Regions from separate parts of the Homo sapiens genome. Here region 2 is linked to region 1. The links come from fine-mapping of genetic effects on plasma protein levels. A gene starts in region 1. The other region holds a variant in brackets. All regions are shown on one strand. Distances are between the middles of the regions. Region 1 holds the start of NTN4 (netrin 4). Region 2 overlaps NTN4 (netrin 4).

Evidence for each region. A credible set is the group of variants that fine-mapping cannot tell apart. PIP is the chance, under the fine-mapping model, that this variant and not a neighbour inherited with it causes the effect. Sun 2018 read protein levels with aptamers (SomaScan).
Region 2: its variant is the best candidate, but not a certain one, in a credible set for the plasma level of the NTN4 protein (Sun 2018, PIP 0.69). The variant lies in the coding sequence of NTN4. If it changes the protein, the assay may bind it differently, which can mimic a change of level.

The regions. Positions count from the first base shown.
Region 1 is chr12:95,788,766-95,793,277 of GRCh38, forward strand. NTN4 (netrin 4) reads right to left here and starts at 1,999. Exons shown (of 10, transcript NM_021229.4): 1 at 1,490-1,999. The coding sequence starts at 1,544. It also overlaps the pseudogene RNU6-247P.
Region 2 is chr12:95,736,062-95,740,061 of GRCh38, forward strand. It overlaps NTN4 (netrin 4), which reads right to left. Exons shown (of 10, transcript NM_021229.4): 3 at 1,805-2,083. Among named protein-coding and RNA genes, the nearest start is that of NTN4, 53 kb to the right of the region's middle. The variant A/G (reference allele first, on the strand shown) is at 2,056.

The DNA of each region.
Region 1 (4,512 bases):
TTCTGTTTGCCACTTTTCTCATTAGCTGGGGCAACAGTTGCTTGTGGCCAGAAGCACACAAACACACAATGTGCTATGACTCACCTGTAAAAAATTTCAAGGAAAATCATATACTGCCTGTACAAGTATTTTTGACTTGAAACACTTGCCTTGTGATGTTTATTTACAACCTTTCAATGGCTTGCATGTTTTTGCCATAATATGGTTTGAGAAGGAAAAGGTTTTTTTTAAAGCTCATATTTTAAGAGTGCAAGAATTAAAGTAAAATCTTAGGCCTTTAATAGGTCCCTGGGAAAAATATCCAATAATTTTAAATGCCCCTAAACTCCTAAGTCCAGAAAAGATTTGAGCCAGATAAAGAATCCATGGGGCAAAATACTTGGAGTCACTCAAGGGACTATTCAATGATACTAAGGATGCTCCTGTGACTTGGACTGGTTTGGGATGCAGACTGGAAAGCCTGGATTTTGCTGGGTGCCAGCGGCCCTCAGGGAAGAGTGGAAGCCCAAGGGAGGAGATGCGTGCTACAATGTTCTGTAGCCACCAGCGCATCCCTCTAGCCCAGGCGCCCCTTTCTGAAGCAGTCAAGATCCGCACGAGAGACTGGATGTCTGCAGACTCCCTCACATCTCTCCCCCTCACCTACAGGGCTGCGCTTACGCCTAACTGGAAACCAGGTGACCCGCAAGAGGGAGGGAGAGGAGCAGAAGGGGCTCCCGAATACAGAAACCACGAGCCAGGAGCCGGTGGCCTAGGGCAGCCCAAGAAAGCCAGGATGGGAGTGGGAGGGAGAGGGCATCTGCCGACGCCGACGCCGGTTGTCCAGTTACCGAGCCAGGGAGCAGACCCGCCTCCGACCTCCCGCAGAGTCTCTGCCAGGGTACCAATTCCCCAGGGGCGGCCAGCCAGCTCAATGCAAGCCCGGGGTGATCACCACCTATCGTCCAAGCCAGGAGTCCCACTGCGTTCCAGTCACTGCTCCGGGGAGAGGGCGCTCAGCCCTGCCCCAGGTGTCCTTACCTGGTTCTCTAGTACCCAGCACCAGGTCAGGGACACCAGCGATGGGCTTCTACCAGAGACCGGCCCCAGCCCACGCGCGCCCAGGGTCGCTGGGCCACCCCTCCTCATCATTCCTTAGGCCATGAAGTGCCGGGGGATGGCGAGCTGGGTCCTTTGTTCCCTCACCAAGTGGAAAAGCAGTTTTTTAACAAGCCAAACCAAGAAAGAAACCCCGGTCGCAGTATCCCCGGCAGGGCGCACCCAGGATAGCTGGTTATCCAAGCGCATGTGTATCCCAGTTGTAAAAATAAATCAATAGTATTTGAAACTGCGGAGCCCCGGGGAAAGGAGGCGGAACATGGCCACTCATTTCACCCTCGGGAGCAGCGCTCTGCGCTCGCAGCCCTGGCTCCCCTGCACCCCCGAGTCCCGAGATGGGTTAGAGAAGCAGCGAGGGAAGGGGTGGGGGCCCCGCCGCGTCACCACCCACCTGCGGCCACCACCGTGCAGCCCCAGAGCAGCAGCAGCCGCGCGCAGCTCCCCATGGCCGGGAGGAGCCGGGAGCAGCCGGGCCGGGCGGGTGCCGGAGGGAGCCGAGACCTCTGGGCTGCGGGATGAAGCGCCGCCGTCCTCGGGAGGGAACGGGGCCCTGGTTTCTTCCTCCTCCTGGGGCGCCGGGCTCGGTCAGCGGTCGCCGGCAGCTGGGAGCCAGGGGCCGGGACCGCGCGGGGAGGTGGGGTGACCCTCGCGCACCGGCCTGGCGGGTCCCGGGCACCTGGGGGGCGGCGGGAGCCCCGGGACCATAGCCGGCCTGGCTGCGCTGCCCCGCGGAGCGGCCCTGCGGGCTCGTCTGCCGCTAGCCCGGGGCTCGGCGCCCGCAGCCGCCGCTGAACTTTGCGAGACCTTTCACTTCCCGGCCGCCGCCGCCGCCTCCTCCTGGGCGTCCTCCTCCGCTTTTCCCACCTCTTCTGGCTGCCCCGGCTCCGTCCCGTCCTTCTCCACGGGCAGTTCCATGCGATGCATTTTTATTGCACCGACGCCGCGGCGCTCCGGTGCCAGCCCTCCTCCCCTCGCACCTCCACCCCTTCCTCCCGCCCGCCCCCCGCGCTTGACAGCCCGGGCGGCGCAGCCCGCGGGATCGGATCGCCGCTGCCGCTGCCGCCCGGGGGGGGGGTCCCCCGCGCCCCGACCGACGCCCCCGACGCCCGGCTGCCCGCTGGTCCCGGTCGCCTCAGCCTGGCCCCCGGCTGCCCTGGCGCCCCTCCTGGCCCGCGCCCTGCATCTCCCTAGTGACCCCCCTGGTGCCCTGCAGCACCCACAGGCCTCCCCTGGGAAGCAATCTCCCACCTTCTCCCGGAACATTCCTAAGAGCAGTAGACTCCCTCTAGATCAGGTCAGGGCATGCCAAGGGGCTTAAAAAACCGCGAAACAGGCTAGCGCCTACTTCCCACATCCCCCAGCGAAACAAGCCCTCCCTCCTCCTCCAGCCACCCCCTCTCGGGGAGTCCCACGACCCGGGGACGGAACACCCCAACCCAGCCCCGCGTCACCCGCACTGAGAGCGCGCCAACTGCTAAGCGGCGTTCGCCGCTTCTCTGCTGCCTTTTGCGGGGGTAGGGGGATGTCTCGGCTAAACAATCGCTGCCTACATGATCCGAAGGTGTGCCCACTTTGGTGTAAGAGGTATTGCCTAACTCAAACTCAAGGTGCTGAAAGAAAAGGGTCACAGGATTAGCTAGTCGGCAGTGTAAGAACATCGTTGTCCAGAGGCAGGGCAAGGGCACGACAAAGGGAACTCTTCGGTCCTTCCAAGCGTTCTCCCTTTATAGAGTATGCCGTGCTGTGAAACAGTGTTAGGAACTAACTTATGGGGAGCAATTTAGTAGCAACCACACGCAGCTAATTGCAGATAGGATTGCTCAGGGCTGGTGCTTCTGGAAAGAGATTAAATAGCAGCCGAGTCTGAGATTTTTGCAAGTTCTGTGAAAATATAATTCTACTTACACATCCAGGGAAACTGGCAAAAGTTAAGTCGACAGCAATTTTGTATTGCAGTGCTCATTTTGTTCCTTTGAATATTTTCCAGAAAATTAACTACGTTCCAGATACCATTTAGTCGTTGTGTCTGTTACAGATGAGGATAATTCAGAGCTTTGGGATACATGTAGATATTATTTACAATGACCCAGCCAGGAACATATAAGAAGTTTATATCTCCCAGGGGGATCTGGGTTGAGGTCAGCATAATCCATTTGGGCGACATTAAAATTATTCTTCTGGCCAACAGAGGAAAGTAGCAGAAGGTGTGGACAGCAATTCATGTAGCATCACCTGCTTTAGAAAATAAACGCTTTGAGTTCCCAAATACTGGCAATGGTGGGGCTTTCTTCATATCTCCTAATGGAGCCATTGAAACACCTCTCCAATTAATCTTTTTACCAAATAAATGATAGGAAACTATAACAGCCAAAGGTTCTTAGCATAAATGTTAACTTAATAGCCAAGGCAAATTAAACAAAGGGGTGGATGCACATTTATTATTAACTTCTGAGTCTAGTATATTTAGGCAGAACTAATCCATTTCTGTTTTTTAATTAACAAATAAACTTGTATGTATTTATCATGTACAACATGATGTTTTGAAATATGTATACAGCGTGGAATGACTAAATCTAGCCAATGAACATATGCATTTTTGCATATTAACATGCATTTAAGAATACACTCACTGTCTTAGCATTTTTCAAGAGTACAATATATTGCTAAAAATATAGAATGCTTCACAAATTTGTATGCCATTCTCATGCAGAGGCCATGCTAATCTTCTCTGTATTGTTCCAATTTTAGCATATGTGCTGCCAAAGCAATCACAGAACTACTCCATATCTCATTACAAATTTCAAAGCCATTTACTGTCTGCACGAATCCTGCATTGATAATATATTTCTTTGCTGAATAACTGGCTCTTATTTCCTTTAACAAGACAGAAAGCTCTCTAATGGTAGAACAGTCTTTAATATTCAGTTTATACAAAACATTACTATGTTTTTCTGATATTTTTCCTTATTCTTAGCCAAGAACACCTACAATAAGTGTTCATTACATGTTTTTGACTGAGTTGTGTTAAAACTATTGTTATATACTAAGGGGCTAAGGAGACTAAGGACTAAGGAGAAAACCAGTTATATCACAATGATTTCCCATATTCAAAAGGAATCTGCACATTCGACACCAATACTATCTATATGAAAAGCTCAGGAGAGAAAAATAGTCAGCATTCTAATAAACATCATTTGCTTATATAGTCCAGTTTAGTTACAAAGGATATTTTCATTTTGAAGAAGCTATCCAAGAAAAGGTTACCTACATAAGAAAAATCTTGGATAAGTATATTATTGCCTATGATTTTGTTTTTGAAAACATCAGTCATGGATTCAGAATATTTTGTAATTTTATGAATTAGTAGGAAGCTTAGCAAACTTACAGAATTTCAATAACAATTCCCAGAAACCA
Region 2 (4,000 bases), 53 kb before region 1:
TCGAGCAGCAGGGAATACAGGCGCCCACCACTATGCCCAGCTAATTTTTGTATTTTTAGTAGAGATGGGGTTTTGCTGTGTTGGCCAGGCTGGTCTGGAACTCCTGACCTCAGGTGATCCACCCGCCTTGGCCTCCCAAAGTGCTGGGATTACAGGTGTGAGCCACTGTGCCCGGCCACCTGAAGTTTTTATAAGGCCCTTGAGAACTCTGGCACTTTGTTGTGGTTGATCAGAGCCATGCAGGTAGTCTCATAGGTCCTTCAGTCCACAAATATTGAGGGTCCACCCTGTGCCATGTTATGGGGGCCTCTGTCATTTTGCTCAGGACTCTACTCTGAGGTGGTCCTGTATGGCTTGGATTATAAGAGACAGTCGAGGAAACAAAAGATCTGCATGCTCTCCTTTCACAAATTCACTAAAATGTCATGGCAAAATATTTTGAGCACTCTACCTCACATAAACTTTCTAGTTCACAGTCTGGTAGGTTGACATGTCTCTAAATATTTGTTATTTTCTGATTGAATCCTACCTGAACCCAGTTAACTGAGATACACTAAATCATAGCACCCTTTATTTGAAACAATACTGTAGGATTTCAAAGATCCATCAGTGTCTAGAAACTAGCAGGTATCTGTTGAATGAATGCTGCATTTTCTTCAACTCTGGGAGCCTGGATTAACTTCTACAAGTAATAGCACTGTTTCTATTTTGGTTACTTTCTGGCTACTGTCCTAGTCATTTTAGTTACCCTGATGCTGCCCCAGCGACTCAGCCCAGCCAGCACAAACTGTCCTGCTGGCTAACTGGATCATGGCTGCTGGTGGCCTATCGTATACTAGGGCTGAGAGAAAGAAGAAAGAATAGGGATGTCTATCCTTTAGGAAATGCAGTAGCATATTCTGCAGCCTTTTCCATTTTATTCATTTTGCTTTGGTTTGCTCAGAAGTATCAGAGCAAAATAGAAAATCAAATAATTGGAGCGCTCATCCTTATTTTCTCCTTGCCCAATCCCCATCCATAGTCTCTGGATGTGTCCCAACAAGGTGCTTACTGCTGAGCCACTCTGTATCTTTTCTGGAAGTCGGGGAGGTAAGGACAGATAAACAATGACACTAATTTTTCATCATCTCCCTATTCCTATGTTGCTATCATTCAACCAAACACCTACTGAGCACCTACTTCTGGCCCAGGTAATACACTTGGTCCTGAGGATACAAAGATCATACAGTTCCTCAGAGAGTTCGTGGTCTCCTGGGGGATGCAGAGAAGTAAAAATTCAGAGGAAAGCCCAGGAGATGTGTGAACCTAGAGGAAAGAGAGTTTAACTCTGCCTTAGGTGAAGAGGGGGTCAGTCCTCTTCATGGAGGAGAATTTTTATTCATTCTGCTGGCTGGACAGCAAAGATACCAGGCATAAAATCGAGGTTCTTATTTTTCCAACTTTAAAATCTACTCCACAATGGTCCCCATTTACTGTCAAAGCTGGCTTGTGTGTGATAATACCACTAATATAATCATGCCATCCTCTCACTCCTGCTCACTTTACACTTTATATCTGAAGGTCACAGTACTAAAAACTGGCATGGGTGTTTTCCAAGGAATCTGGTTATCAGGCTTGACTACAACTCTAAAACTGAAGATTAAAAGACAAGTTAACAGGCACTTTATAGGATGAGTATGGAGTCGGAGCTGTGATGGGCAGAGGAAAAAATCAGCAGCACTATGTTAAGCATATACCAACCAATGCCCAAAGCTGAAGGTAACTTATGATTTGTTTTTCTTAGGGGAGGACTTGTTTCACCTACCATGTGGAATGTTCCTGGGGCCTTGACAGGTCTGAAGCCATGAACAGGTATGCATTGATCAGCGTGGCCATTGCAGAAGCAGCTGCCCTTGACAATGAAATCATAGATTGCATAGTGTGTAAAATGTTGAGGCTCTTCGTTCAGGTCATTTCTCTGACAGGGACAAGACTGTCGTTTCAGCAGCTGCACGCGAAGGTTGGTGATCTTCAGCTGCTCCTGAACTTTGGCACTGTAAGGGTTCTCTGTATCGT[A/G]TGGTGGTGACAAAGCTTTGAAAATAACCTGTAAGGAGAAAGAAAATACCATGCGTTTATAGGACTGTGCGCAAACCCTGAATTGTTTGCCTAATGTAGTCCCTGTTTGATTTATGCCTTATGTCATCTGTGAACGATAAGATAACAAGAAGTTTTTAGACCTTGAGCACACCTGGGACAGAGCCGCCCTGTTATTCTAAGGAGCAGATGTGCTGCCTGTTTGTACACAGAAGTATACATTGAGTGACCAGCAGAGACCTGACCCTTGAGATAAAGGCAGCCATACAAAGATCTTGCCAGGAAGAGCATTCTGGGCGAGGGAAGAGCAAGCTTAAAGGCTTTGAGGCAGAGTCAAGCTTGGCTTGCTCAAGGAAGAACAACGAAGTCAGTGTGACTGGAGACCAGTGAACAAAGAGAGAGTGGCTGGAGAGGCGGACAGAGAGCAGGTGTGAGATAGACATGAATGGAGCCCTGTGGAAGTCACAGTAGAGTTATGCTGACTGTAGCGGAAGCCACTGGGACACTGTAGGCAGAGAGGTGATATCTGATTTACCTTGCCTAAAAATATAACTCTCTCTTTTTGGATATAAAAGTATCACCTTAGAGATCAATTTCATACCAAAAGTATGAAAAGGAAAGAATCGACTGTGTCACATGTCCAAGGTCTACTGGTACAGACCTGTCCTCAGTGAAATATAACTGTGGGGGAGAGGGTAATAATTCAGCAGACATTTGGCCTCTGCAGCTCATGGTCTAGCCAGTAGCCAGAGTGGTTCTCTATAAACAGAGATTGGATCGTGTCACTCCCTTGCTTAAACCACCCCCACCTGAAGACCTCCCATTCTCCTCAGAACAAGATGCAAGGTCCTTATAATGGCTCTGCCTGGTTTCTGTTCTTAGTACTTATCACCATCTGACATTATATTTGTAGTGGTTTAGTGATTTACTATCTTCCCAGTCCAGACCAAAAACTTCATGTAGGCGGTCACGTATGTATCCCAGGACAGTGGCTGGCACATAGTAAGTATTCAATAAATTTTTGGTAAACAAATTAATTAATTTAACATTGTTCTTGGCATTTGTGTAATAGGTGAGAATTCCAAATAACTTCCTTATGTCGGGTCTAAATTCATTCGCATACTGAATTTCACGTTAAACACCAGTATTATGACAATAATAAGAAATAACGGATTAACCGGTATTTGTATTTCTAGCTATTTTTGAACTTTTAAAGCTTAAACAACATTGTATCTTAAACTCAAACCACATTCTGTCCCATTTATCCACATGCAAAGTGGTGGAAGGAAGCTTATCAGAAAATAAAATTTTCCAACAAACAATATGTCATATATTCAAAAGTCAGTACAGAAGTAACATCTTTTTCTTTTAACAACAGCTAGAACATGATTTTCTGTTTCGAAGCATTTTTTAAAAATTGAATCCATTATGGGCTTTATATGGAACTGATTCTCAACGTGACCTCCAAACACTGACATTTCTGTTAGACAGGAAGAACCCTTGCTCTAAATGATATCAGTAAAGTGCTACCTCCTATTTTATCAACCACAGTAATGCAAGGACATGGAAAAGGACACACCAGTGCTAACCAAGTAAGAGCTCCACTGAAAAGTCTGTGGTGTCCTTCTCCTCGTTATCTGCCCACCCTTCCTTTTCCTGAGCCTCGGTGGCAACTGTTTGGTCTCTCTCTGTCTCTGCCACGTATTTACCCTTGACATTTACCCTAGTTCCCTCTCTCACCCCATTCCATCTCCCCCTCACCCTCAGAATTGTTCCGCACAGGCAAAGCCAGAGGAAGCTCTGTCAAGGTCTGTAGGAACTTTGAAGCTCTTCTGCTTCCTGAGCCCAGACAGTGGGAGCTGAATGGCGGCTCTGTGCTTGGTGTGCATGACACCACAGTTGGCACGCGGATATCAGTAGGGAAGGG